3 linked regions of the Homo sapiens genome follow. The protein of the gene in region 1 purifies or fractionates together with the protein of each later gene. This does not show direct contact. Each region holds a gene or a part of one and is shown on either strand. Other genes may lie near its edges.

What was found.
Region 2: the proteins of RNF34 (region 1) and CASP9 purify together in Homo sapiens (affinity purification with western blotting, with the first as the bait; one study listed by BioGRID). This does not show direct contact.
Region 3: the proteins of RNF34 (region 1) and ZNF550 purify together in Homo sapiens (co-immunoprecipitation; one large-scale study listed by IntAct). This does not show direct contact.

What each region holds. Positions count from the first base shown.
Region 1 is NC_000012.12:121,417,118-121,420,617, forward strand, and holds part of RNF34 (E3 ubiquitin-protein ligase RNF34), read left to right. Parts: intron 1-386; coding exon 387-794; intron 795-3,124; coding exon 3,125-3,217; intron 3,218-3,459; coding exon 3,460-3,500. UniProt on the Homo sapiens protein: E3 ubiquitin-protein ligase that regulates several biological processes through the ubiquitin-mediated proteasomal degradation of various target proteins.
Region 2 is NC_000001.11:15,500,216-15,503,715, forward strand, and holds part of CASP9 (caspase-9 isoform alpha precursor), read right to left. Parts: intron 1-3,500. UniProt on the Homo sapiens protein: Involved in the activation cascade of caspases responsible for apoptosis execution. Binding of caspase-9 to Apaf-1 leads to activation of the protease which then cleaves and activates effector caspases caspase-3 (CASP3) or caspase-7 (CASP7).
Region 3 is NC_000019.10:57,557,064-57,561,068, forward strand, and holds the start of ZNF550 (zinc finger protein 550), read right to left. Parts: upstream 2,801-4,005; 5' UTR 2,620-2,800; coding exon 2,593-2,619; intron 1-2,592. UniProt on the Homo sapiens protein: May be involved in transcriptional regulation.

The sequences.
Region 1 (3,500 bases):
TTTTGTCTCCTGCTCTTTAAATGGAGGAAATTGTTCATGTAGGAAAAGACCAGGAAGTGTGATTCTGCTTTCTGCTCTGTGTGGTTCAAGCTCTGTTTTGTTAATTACATGTTTATACCAAGGGGTGGAAAGGTTTTAATTCATTAACACAAGAGTGTGTTTTTCTTAAAGTCCTATATTAGAACTTCTGTGAATCCAGACTGCCTTGGCAATGAATATTTTGATTTTCATGGCTTTTGAAACATGAAAATACCTCTGGAAATAGTCTGGTGCCACTGGGGACTTCACTAAGAACTAAAATTAAATTTTAGTAGAAGGCAGAAAGAAAACTCATGCTTTCATAATGGTTTATATCTTGCTGTCATCAAATGCTTTTCTTTCTTCAGCATGTTTGCTGTGACTGCAAGAAGGATTTTTGCTCCGTTTGTTCAGTCTTACAAGAAAATCTCCGTAGATGTTCTACTTGTCACTTATTACAAGAGACAGCATTTCAGCGCCCTCAGTTAATGCGACTGAAGGTGAAGGACCTGCGGCAGTATCTCATTCTGAGAAATATACCCATAGATACTTGTCGTGAGAAAGAAGACTTGGTGGATCTAGTACTGTGCCATCATGGACTAGGCTCTGAGGACGACATGGACACAAGCAGTCTGAATTCTTCAAGGTCCCAGACTTCTAGCTTTTTTACACGTTCGTTTTTTTCAAACTATACAGCCCCCTCTGCTACTATGTCTTCGTTTCAGGGAGAGCTTATGGATGGAGACCAAACATCCAGATCTGGAGTGCCGGCACAGGTACGAGGGGGTAACTAATTACACCCAGGGCCCGGCACGCTTATTCTTGGCCGTATATGGTGGGGCCTTTAGTGCTTGATGACTTCTGATAAACTTCAAGTCATGTGCTGGAGTGAAGCTTCCACACCCAGCTGAACTCTGCACTTAAAGGCTGTCCTGATGTATAGTGTCTGCTGAGGTGCTAGGTGGCTCCAAAGTCTGCTGTCTGAAGGGTCCCAAAATAGCTCATCAGTCTCTTGGCCTTAGTTAATTTCTCTGTCTTACACAGTTAGACACTAACTGTTGAAGAAATGGCTGTGAAAAAGTAGCACATACACATTTGTAGTGTTATGTGTTAGTGCACGTGTTTCAGTGACCACAGAAAACAATCAGTAGTGTAAGTTAGCCTAATGCCCATTTGTCTTGCTACAGTGAAATTGTTCTAATTTAGTTAATGAAAGAGCCATCTGAATTAGTGAAAAAATGTAGTTATTTACTAATTGTAATTAATAATATTGTCCCAGTGAGGTCCTTGGACATCCTGATTGAATAACATGTAAAGGCTTGTAATTAATATTTACTTGTACGTGAGTGATTCTAAACTGCTGAAAGAAATGTTTTGAACAAATTTTTTCACGCTTAATTTTCTTCTCTGAAGAAGGGGGTTATTAAAAGTAGAGGAAAGCTGGATGCGGTGGTGTGAGCCTGCAGTCTGATACTTGGCAGGCTGAGGCAAGAGGATTGCTTTAGTTCAGGAGTACGAGGCTGCAGGTGTACCATGATTGCAACTGTGAATAGCCACTGTACCCCCAGCCTGGGCAACATAGCAAGACTTTTTTTTTTGTTTGGAGGCAGAGTCTCACTCTGTTGCCCAGGCTAGAGTGAAGTGGCGAGATCTTAGTTCACTGCAACCTCTGCCCCGCTGGGTTCAAGCAATTCTCCTGCCTCAGCCTTCCGAGTAGCTAGGATTACACCCCAGTTAATTTTTGTATTTTTAGTAAAGATGGGGTTTCACCATGTTGGTCAGGCTGGTCTCGAATACCTGACCTCAGGTTATCTACCTGCCTTGGCCTAAGTGCTAAGATTACAGGCATGAGCCAACCGCGCCTGGCCAAGAGTGTCTTTTAATTAGTAAATGAATAAATGCAGAGGGAAATTTGGTCTAATTGCCTTCTAGATATAGTCCTGTGTCCTCTAATAATGTTTTGGTCAGTGATAGACCACATACACGGCAGTGGTTCTGTAAGATTATAATACCATATTTTTATTGTACCTTTTTTGTGTTTAGATATGTTTAGATACACAAATACTTATTACTGTGTTATAGCTGCCTACAGTATTCAGTACACTAACGTGATGTACGGCTTCGTAGCCGGCCATGCCCTATAGCCTAGGTGTGTAGCAGGCTGTGCCATCTAGGTTTGTGGAAGTACACTGTGATGTTCGCACAATGACAAAATCGCCTAAGGACACATTACTCAGAACGTCTCCTAGTCGTCAAGCAACACATACTGTAGTCGTAAATTAGATAAGTCCAAGCCAGGAGTTTTATTATTCTCCCAAATGAGAATTGGCATATTTATGCTGCAAACATAAGGCACAGCTGACTTACATACCCCTTTTGGGTATACACCACCATTTGGGTGATGTGGATTGTTGGATGCTACAGTATGGTGCCTGGCAATCAGGGTGGAATATTTGAAATTGGGAACCGACCTAGCTTATTGGAGAGCTATTGTCAAATATAGTCAAAAGAAAATATGTGAAGGAAGGTACATAACCCAAACTGAAGAGATTTGTGTTTTCTAAAGTGTTCTGATTGAGAAATTTTAAAAACTAGAATTAGCCTCAGCCATCAGTGAAGTCTAGAAAGCCTTCGTTGGAATTAGATTGTCTAAGTACGCTGTGGTAGGACTGAGATCTTTCAAATCAGATGCCCCTGATGCTTGGGCTGACCCATCAGAGCTTTAGCTTTTTTCTGTCTGCATCTTACAGGCTCCAGTTAAACTAGCCATTTGCAGGTACTTTGATAATGACACAGTGCTGTCCCATATCCTTAATGGCTTTGGCATTCCATTATGGGACCTTCCTGAGAGAGTTAATACTCTGGTTAGATTTTATAACTTTACACACACACAGGAATTTGTGTTTTGAGCTAACTTTATGGAAGGTAGGTTCTTCATGCAATTTTGTAGGGCCCAACTTTTTGGAAGGGTCAGCAGCATTCTGAATCCAAAGATGTGCATTATGCTGGCTTTCTGGTCATCATGGGGAGCATCAATGACAAGGTTTTCTCTAGTGATAAATACAGATTGATTCCTGACCTAATCAGATACGTTGTATAAGTGTAGGTACAAAGTGAAATCACTTCAGCAAACACAGAAGATGATGATGACGACGATGATGAGGATGATGATGATGAAGAAGAAAACGCAGAGGATCGGGTGAGGCCACCTATAAAATTTGGTTTCCCTGACATGTCAGCCTGACAGGAAGGGACAGTGCCCTGTGGACATTCGCTAGATTAGTACAGGATGTTTCTTCTGGTTTGAATGTAGGACAGTATACTGAAACACTTCTAGGACTGCTGAGATGGCTGGGAGAATATTCAGGGCCAGTGATGAGTTTAGAGTGGGGAGGGTCTGGACTTATGGGACCAGGGCTAATGGATGCTCTGTGGTTTCAGAACCCCGGGCTCTCCAAGGAGAGAGTGAGAGCTTCACTGTC
Region 2 (3,500 bases), on another chromosome or scaffold:
TCCAGAGGGTCCCCTGCAAAAACACTCCTGGAGAATGTGACTGTGATCCAGGCCCTGATGCCATCAGGGAGAACGGTCCTGGTGAGAGAGACAGCAAGTGCTGTGGCCGCAACGCAGGCAGGTTTGCATGGCTGGATCTATGTGACTGAGGGAAGTCACAGTTCACCCAGAGGAGCTGGGGGCCCATCTGGCAGGAACAGAGGTGGCTCTGGCAACCCCATAATAGTAACACCAAAATCTATTGACCTCTTACCCCACACAGCTAAAGCTCAGAAACCACTGGTCATTGGCATTCTCCCAGCTGATATGAGGGGCGCGGAATTCTGCCCCATGTTTTTTGCCTCTCAACTATCCCACTGCTTCTCACGGAGGCCCCCAGCCTCCAAAGGGGGGCCTCTTTGATCTGTGACAGCCATGTTTTTCTCCAGATTTTGTGGTTCATTGCTTCTGGTTGTTTTCTTGGTAGAGACTCCGGAATCTGCCCCAGGTGTCTGGGAATGACGTGAAACAGCACAGCAAGGAGGCCTGAGGCGTGAATGTGATGGTGCTGGGTCTGCCTGGCAGCCTGTGGGGGCGGAGGGATGCCTAAGTGGGGGATGCCGTTAAGAATGGCCAGAAGAGACAGGGTGAGCAGAGAGGCTGAGAAGAGACAGCAGATCAGAGCAGGGGGTGTGGGGGAAAGGAAAGAGGGGGTCAGGCGGGGCGCTAAGGCAGCTCCGTTCACGTGTCAGCCTCAGCCCACAAATCTGATGTGAAGGCCTTGCCTAGGGTGTTCTGCACTGTATGCATGGCTTGGTTCTTGGAGAGCCTCGGTTCTTAGAGAGCCTCATTAATGCAAAACTCCCCGTAGGGCAGGACTCATTCCCCACAAGAATAAATATACAGTAGGAGGAGATGTTCCCTCCGCACAGAAAATCCACGACCACTGCAGCATATTGTCATTGCTTTCTGTCTTCTCAGCCCGATCTCTCAAATCCCAAAGAGGGGTCACCCCAAAATTGACGGCTCAGCCTCAGAGAGGTGGCTACTTGGTTGCCTATCACGCTGACGTTGCACACCAAAGTTATCGACTTTAATGCACATTTTTCAGCCCTGGTGCTGTTACCTCCTAATGAATGGGTGGATGACATGTTGGAGGGTTTTAAAATTATTATTTAAAAATGATTTTTAAATTATTTATTATTATATTTAAATTAATTATTAAATGATTTTTAAATTAAATATTTTTAAAGTATTATAGTGAGTTATAAAATAGCAATACAAGAGTCCTCAAAACCCAGGACAGGTGTTCTGATGCATGTAAACAGACCCCTCGCCAGGCACTAGTGAAGAACGGGGACCTTTCTATTTCTGCTCTCAGCTGACGTGGCGCCACCATGTGGTAACTGCGTTAAGCACCAGGTCACGCAGCCTGCGGAGGCAAAGCAAGGACCCGACTCCAAAGGGATATCTTAATCACTGCATGCTGGCTTTGAAATCTTGCTGTTTTCTGTGAGTTTTGTTTTAATGATGGAAATCTACATTATGCCAAATTTGGCTCATATTTTTTTTTTATTTTTTATTTTTTTAGAGACAGGTGACAGACTGGCTCTGTCACTCAGGCCGGAGTGCAATAGTGTAAACATGGCTCACTGTAGCCTCGACCTCCAGGGCTCAAGCGATCTTCCTGCCTAAACATCCCAAGTAGCTGGGACCATAGGCACACACCACCAGGCCTGGCTAATGTTTTAAATTTTATGATAGAGACTGGTCTCAAACTCCTCGTCTCAAGAGATCCTCCCACCTTGGCCTCCCAAACTGTTGGGATTACAGGCGTGAACCACCACAGATGCTTTTGTATGGTTCTCCTTTACATTCAAATTAGAATCCACATGAGACGCAACCAGACTGTGGGCTCTGTGCCAGGCTGGGGGCCTGGCTGCAGGGTAGGCCTGGCCCTCCCCTCAGAGCTGACCAGGGGATAAGCCCATCTCAATACAATGAGACAGTGCTATGGTAGGGGAGGGACAGAGGCTGCAGGAGCACAAAGGCCAGCTAACCCTGACTTTGGCCAAGAAAGGGGGTGTTTAGGGAAGTGACAATAAATTGTAACCAGAAGGATGGATGATTAAGAGTCAGCCAGGTGCCAGGCACGGTGGCTCATGCCTGTTATCCCAGCACTTTGGGAGGCGGAGGTGGGAGTATCACTTGAACCCAACAGTTCAAGACTAGCCTGGGCAATATAGTGAGACCCCCATCTCTAAAACAAAATAAGTAAAAATGAATTTTAAAAAAAGAGTTAGCCAGGGGAGCAGGTAGAAGAGCAAGCAAGAGCCTGGACATCCTGGGAAGGCTGGGCCGTGCTGGGGACTCGGAGCATGCCAGGCTGGGGAAGGTGAAGTGGCAGGGGCCAGGTCACCAAAGGCCTTGGAAGCCCTGCTACTGAGTCCTAAGAGTGACAGCAGATATTCACGTGACAAAGGCCCTCCCTGCTGTTGAGACTGAGACTGGATGGGGCATGGGAGGAGCACAAGACTGACTAACTGTCCAGAAAGTAGGTATGCCTGCTCAGCCTGCATTCCTAATTCCCCTGCCCTTTCTGTCTTTCATTTGATTCATAGGAGAAAGAGGGACCGGAGGCTCCGAAGGAAGAGCATTGCTGGACCACACACTGTGGATAAGACAGGAGGTGAGGCAGAGCAGGGTTTCTACAGCCCCGAGAGTGGCAGCCTTCCTCACTTCCTGTTACTGTTGTCCTGAGGGAACTCTGCTGGCGACAGCGGGGTGGGGGACTCTTATGTGACACTGGGTCCTCCGGGGTGGGAGCGGGGGGCAGGCTGGGTTTTCAGTTATTAAAATGAACCAATCACTGTACACACACCAATTAGTGCATTAAATATTATTAAAGTTGCCTGGGCACAGTGGCTCACGCCTGTAATCCCAGCACTTTGGGAGGCCGAAGTGAGCAGATTGCTTGAACCCAGGAGTTCAAGACCAGCCTGGGCAACATGGCAAAACCCTGTCTCTACAAAAAAAAAATAGAAAAATTAGCTGGGCATGGTAGTGTGCACCTGTAGCCCCAGCTACTCAGGAGGCTGAGGTGGGAGGATCACCTGAGCTTGGGAGTGGGTTCTGTTATTTTCCCCATTTGCTGAGCTGTCTAGAGATGAACTGGCCCAGGGCTGTGTGATAGATAGGTCAGTAGCCCATCCAGGGTTAATCAAGTGTTCTCAATCACTTGTGGTCAAGTTATGGGCATGGGTCATGACAGTGACTTAATACAGTTCATGTCAAATTATAAATTCCAGGAGACTGAAACTCTGTTTTTCCCCTATCCCCAGCACCTAACGCACAGCCTGGTATATACAGATGGTGCTCAATAAACACTTACTGGATGAATGATGTGACCAGAGACTGCTCTCCTAGGTAGCCTCCACCCAACTCCACCAACGTGGAATAGGGATGGGGCAGTTGGATGTGCACAGGAGAAATAGACCACAGGTGCCCATGTCACAGCTGGA
Region 3 (4,005 bases), on another chromosome or scaffold:
GAGACAGCCTGAGATGTGGCCTCGTGGGAAGGGAAAGACCTTACCTTCCCTCAGCCCGACACCCATAAAGGGTCTGTGCTGACGAGGATTCATGAAAGAGGAAGGCCTCTTTGCAGTTGAGATAAGAGGAAGGCATCTGTCTCCTGCTTGTCCCTGGGAATGGAATGTCTTGGTGTAAAACCCGAGCGTACATTCTATTTACTGAGATAGGAGAAAGCCGCCTTATGGCTGGAGGTAAGACATGCTGGCGGCAATACTGCTCTTTACTGCACTGAGATGTTTGGGTAAAGTCAAACATAAATCTGGCCTACGTGCACATCGAGGCACAGCACCTTTCCTTAAACTTATTTATGACACAGAGTCCTTTGCTCACATGTTTTCCTGCTGACCCTCTCCCCACTCATTACCCTATAGTCCTGCCACATCCCCCTCATGGAGATGGTAGAGATAGTGATCAATAAATACTGAGAGAACTCAGAGACTGGTGCTGGTGTGGGTCCTCCATATGCTGAGTGCCAGTCCCCTGGGCCCACTTTTCTTCCTCTATACTTTGTCTCTGTGTCTTATTTCTTTTCTCAGTCTCTCATCTCCACCTTGCAAGAAATACCCACAGGTGTAGAGGGGCAGGCACCCTTCACTAAGTCCTCTGGTCCTCACTGTGTCCCTGCCAGGCTAAGGCTTCCTTAGCCGTGGTAAAGCAAATAAAGGCCTGACTTAAATCAGGCCTCCTGAATCTGACACTTGCCAGCTATGTGACTATGACGATGTCACATGATCTCTCTAAGGCTCGATTTCCGAATCAACACAATAACTATTCCCATCTCAGCAGGCAGCTCTAAGAACTAAACAGAAAATGTTCACTTAGGCAATCAGTGGAGTGCCTAGCACATGTAAGTGCCTGATGTGTTTGGGAACTTTATTAATCCCCTGACAGGCCCAGAGGTAAATGTCGTTATCACTTCCATTTCACAGTCAGCAAAGGCTCAGGGAGCTTTAGAAATCAGGCACAGCCTCACATTTAAAAAGCAAAAGCAGCATTTGAGCACCGCTAAAACACCTCACCAAGCTGCCAGAGAGCAGGCAGGTGGGAGTGAGGGGTGCTTTTAGCTACAGCCAGCACTGCCAGGATGGGTGTGGAACTGCAGCCCCGCAGAGACCTGAGAACAATGTCTCAGACAAAGGGAAGTGCAAGGGCAAAGGCTGAAAATGGGAAAGAGCTTGGCAAGCTCAGGATTCCCTGGATGAATGCAGTGAGAAAGGGGACAATGGAAGAGGAGAAAGAAGATGCGGTCAAAAGGGCAAACCAAGTACAGCCTTGCAGACCATGCTGGTAGGAGGGGGTGGATTTATTGGAAATGTGATGAGAGTCCCTATAAGAGAGGCCTATTCAATCATCAACCATTTATTAAGTACAATAAATGTACTTAAGCCTGGCTGTTCTGGGTCTTGGGAGAGGGAAGCAACAGGCACTCACATTCCAGGGTTGGAAAAAGATCCTAAACAGGCAACTAAATAAATGAGTAAGGCAATGTCAGATGGCCTTAAAGATTCAGATGACAAGAAAACAGAGCAAGGAGACCAAAGAGACTCTGGTCAGCTTTAAACGGTGCAACAGACGAGACCTCTTTAAGCAGCGGACACCAGAGGGAGTCAGAAATAAAGCAAAGGAGGGAGAGGTGGATGAGAAATTAACAACTACGACAGGAGCTGACAGTAATCTGGGCTATCATGAAAGTAATCAGAGTGACTGCTAGAGAGTAACCCTGGGCCTCATGTGTTATCTCCAAAGGGACACTACATCCTGCATACCATCGCCACTGAACATTTTAATGGACTCGTTTTTCACCTGTAACTAAATGTCTTAAACAGGAAAATATACTGTTAGTTGCAACCCAGCGTCCCTTGCCCTAAACTGAAAGACAAATTCCTCAGCCTGCCCTACCACCTTTTCTGCCCTGGCATAGCAGCAACCGCAGAAACGCTCCTCCCACCTCTTTCAGCCGCTGCCCTTCGTGTTGTAGAGACAGGAGGCCAAGGAGGCCAGAGGGTCAGACTCCTGCTGGGGTTGAGTCTCCAAACCTAGCACAGGCCCAGGGAGCAGCTCCGGAAACAACATCCTGAGCGACGTCCCCGGACCGTGCTGTGCACTGAGACGGACACACACACATCACCCAGGGAGCCGTTCAAGCTTCCTCAACCCCGGGGGGGGGAAGAGTAAATATTTCTACTTTGCGCGCGCAAAAATGAAGGACGAGGACAGTAACGGGACTTGTTCAAGGTCGCAGGCCCGAGAAAGGACATGGTTGGAAGAGCCACGAGGAGGACTGCGGTCGCTCCTCTCACCTGTGAGGGGTTCCGGGACCCTAAAAGCCCTATTTCATACCACAACGCCGCGCACCCCAGAAACGGGGACGCTCCCCACGCCACCGCGGGCCTGCATTCCGGACCCGGGACCGCGCGACCCCCTTCTAGGCCTCTAAGAAGCAACGGCAGGGACTGCACTGAGGACGACCCTGAAACGCCGTCCTTCCGCTCGTCGGGCCCGGGACACTGAGGCCGGGTGGCCGCGGGGAGCCGAGCCAGTCTGCTCACCTGCGCTGCGTCCTTCGTCTCCGCCATCCGACCGTTGGCAGGACGAGGCCGCGTGGGGCAGCTCCCACGGGCTCAAAACCCTACCCCGGGTCCTACAACGGTGCGGAGGTGAGCCCCAGTCGCCCTACCATCCTTCCCAGCACAGTTCTGAGAGCGCGGACCAACACGCCCCACCACAAACGTCCACGCCAGCGAGGCCGGAAGTCCCGCCCCTGTGTCGCGGTCGCCTGCCACGCCTTTTCCTGCGCCGGCCCACTGCCTTCTAGGTAATGTAGTCTTGTCCCGTAAGAGGCCAGGCTTGGCTCTTTTTCCTTTTTTATTATGCACACCATGTTTCTGTATATCTCAGATGATCTTAGCGGAGCAAGTGTACACACTGGATTGTAAATTTTTAAAACTTCCTATTATTCGGATGCCTCAACGTCCCTACAAGCAGGCTGTGAGCACTCGCCCAGGCACCCAGGTAAACGAGTTTGATAAAGGGGGCCCTGCCACGAGGTTCCCCGCTTGCCTCCTCTGAGTGACCCAGTGACATTCCCATGTACCAGTAAAATCTTACGCCTGGTTACTGCGTCCTCCTCCACCCTGACGCCAGGCACTGTCCCTGGGACTGGCGTGGATCTGGACCCCCGCTTCCCGCGTGGAGCCATTCCCGGGACATGCTCGTGGGGTTCCGTCTGTGGGACGTCTGCCTCCTCTGTGTGGACTGGTGTTGCCCAGGGCTCAGGAAGGTCTCCAGGGGCCGTGAGTCCCCGCCCGCTTCCGGAGTCCAGCTTCGTGACACCATCGTGAGAAAGAATGCAGGGATGAGTCAAAATGAAGCCAAAGGCAAGAAGCTTTTATTGGGAAGAAAAAGTACACATTTTTGAGAAGAGTGTACTTTTCCCAAGAGAAGAGGGAAATGCGGACGTACGAGGGAGAGCGGGTCATGCACAATGGAGTTTGGGTTTCTAATTTTATGGGCTCTTCTAATTAGGGGGTGGGATAATCATGAGGTTTTTCTAGGAAAAGGTGGGAATTTCTTAGAATTGGGGTGCCAACCATTTTTATACTAAATGTGGGCGTGCTTGGATTGGCCTGGCACTGGTGGGTGTGTGATTTAATGTGGCAATGAGTGTATAATTAGGTCTGGGGTAGGAAATGGGTCAAATCTAGCGTCATGGGACAGCCTAGCCCCAATCCTGTTTGTTAAGGTCTCATCAGCCCAGTCTTCTTGTTGGAGTAGCTAATTTTAACAGCTTGATGTTTTCCCCCTTCTCCTGTGACCACACAGCATTCCTATTTTGTGGGTGTTTCTTTAATTAGAGAGTGGAATAATTATTAGGTATTCTGGAAAAGGAGGGAAATTCAGGGACCCACCTGGTTACTGCCCCCTTTCTCTCTTATTTGGCTTTGCCCAGAAGAGTCATGGAC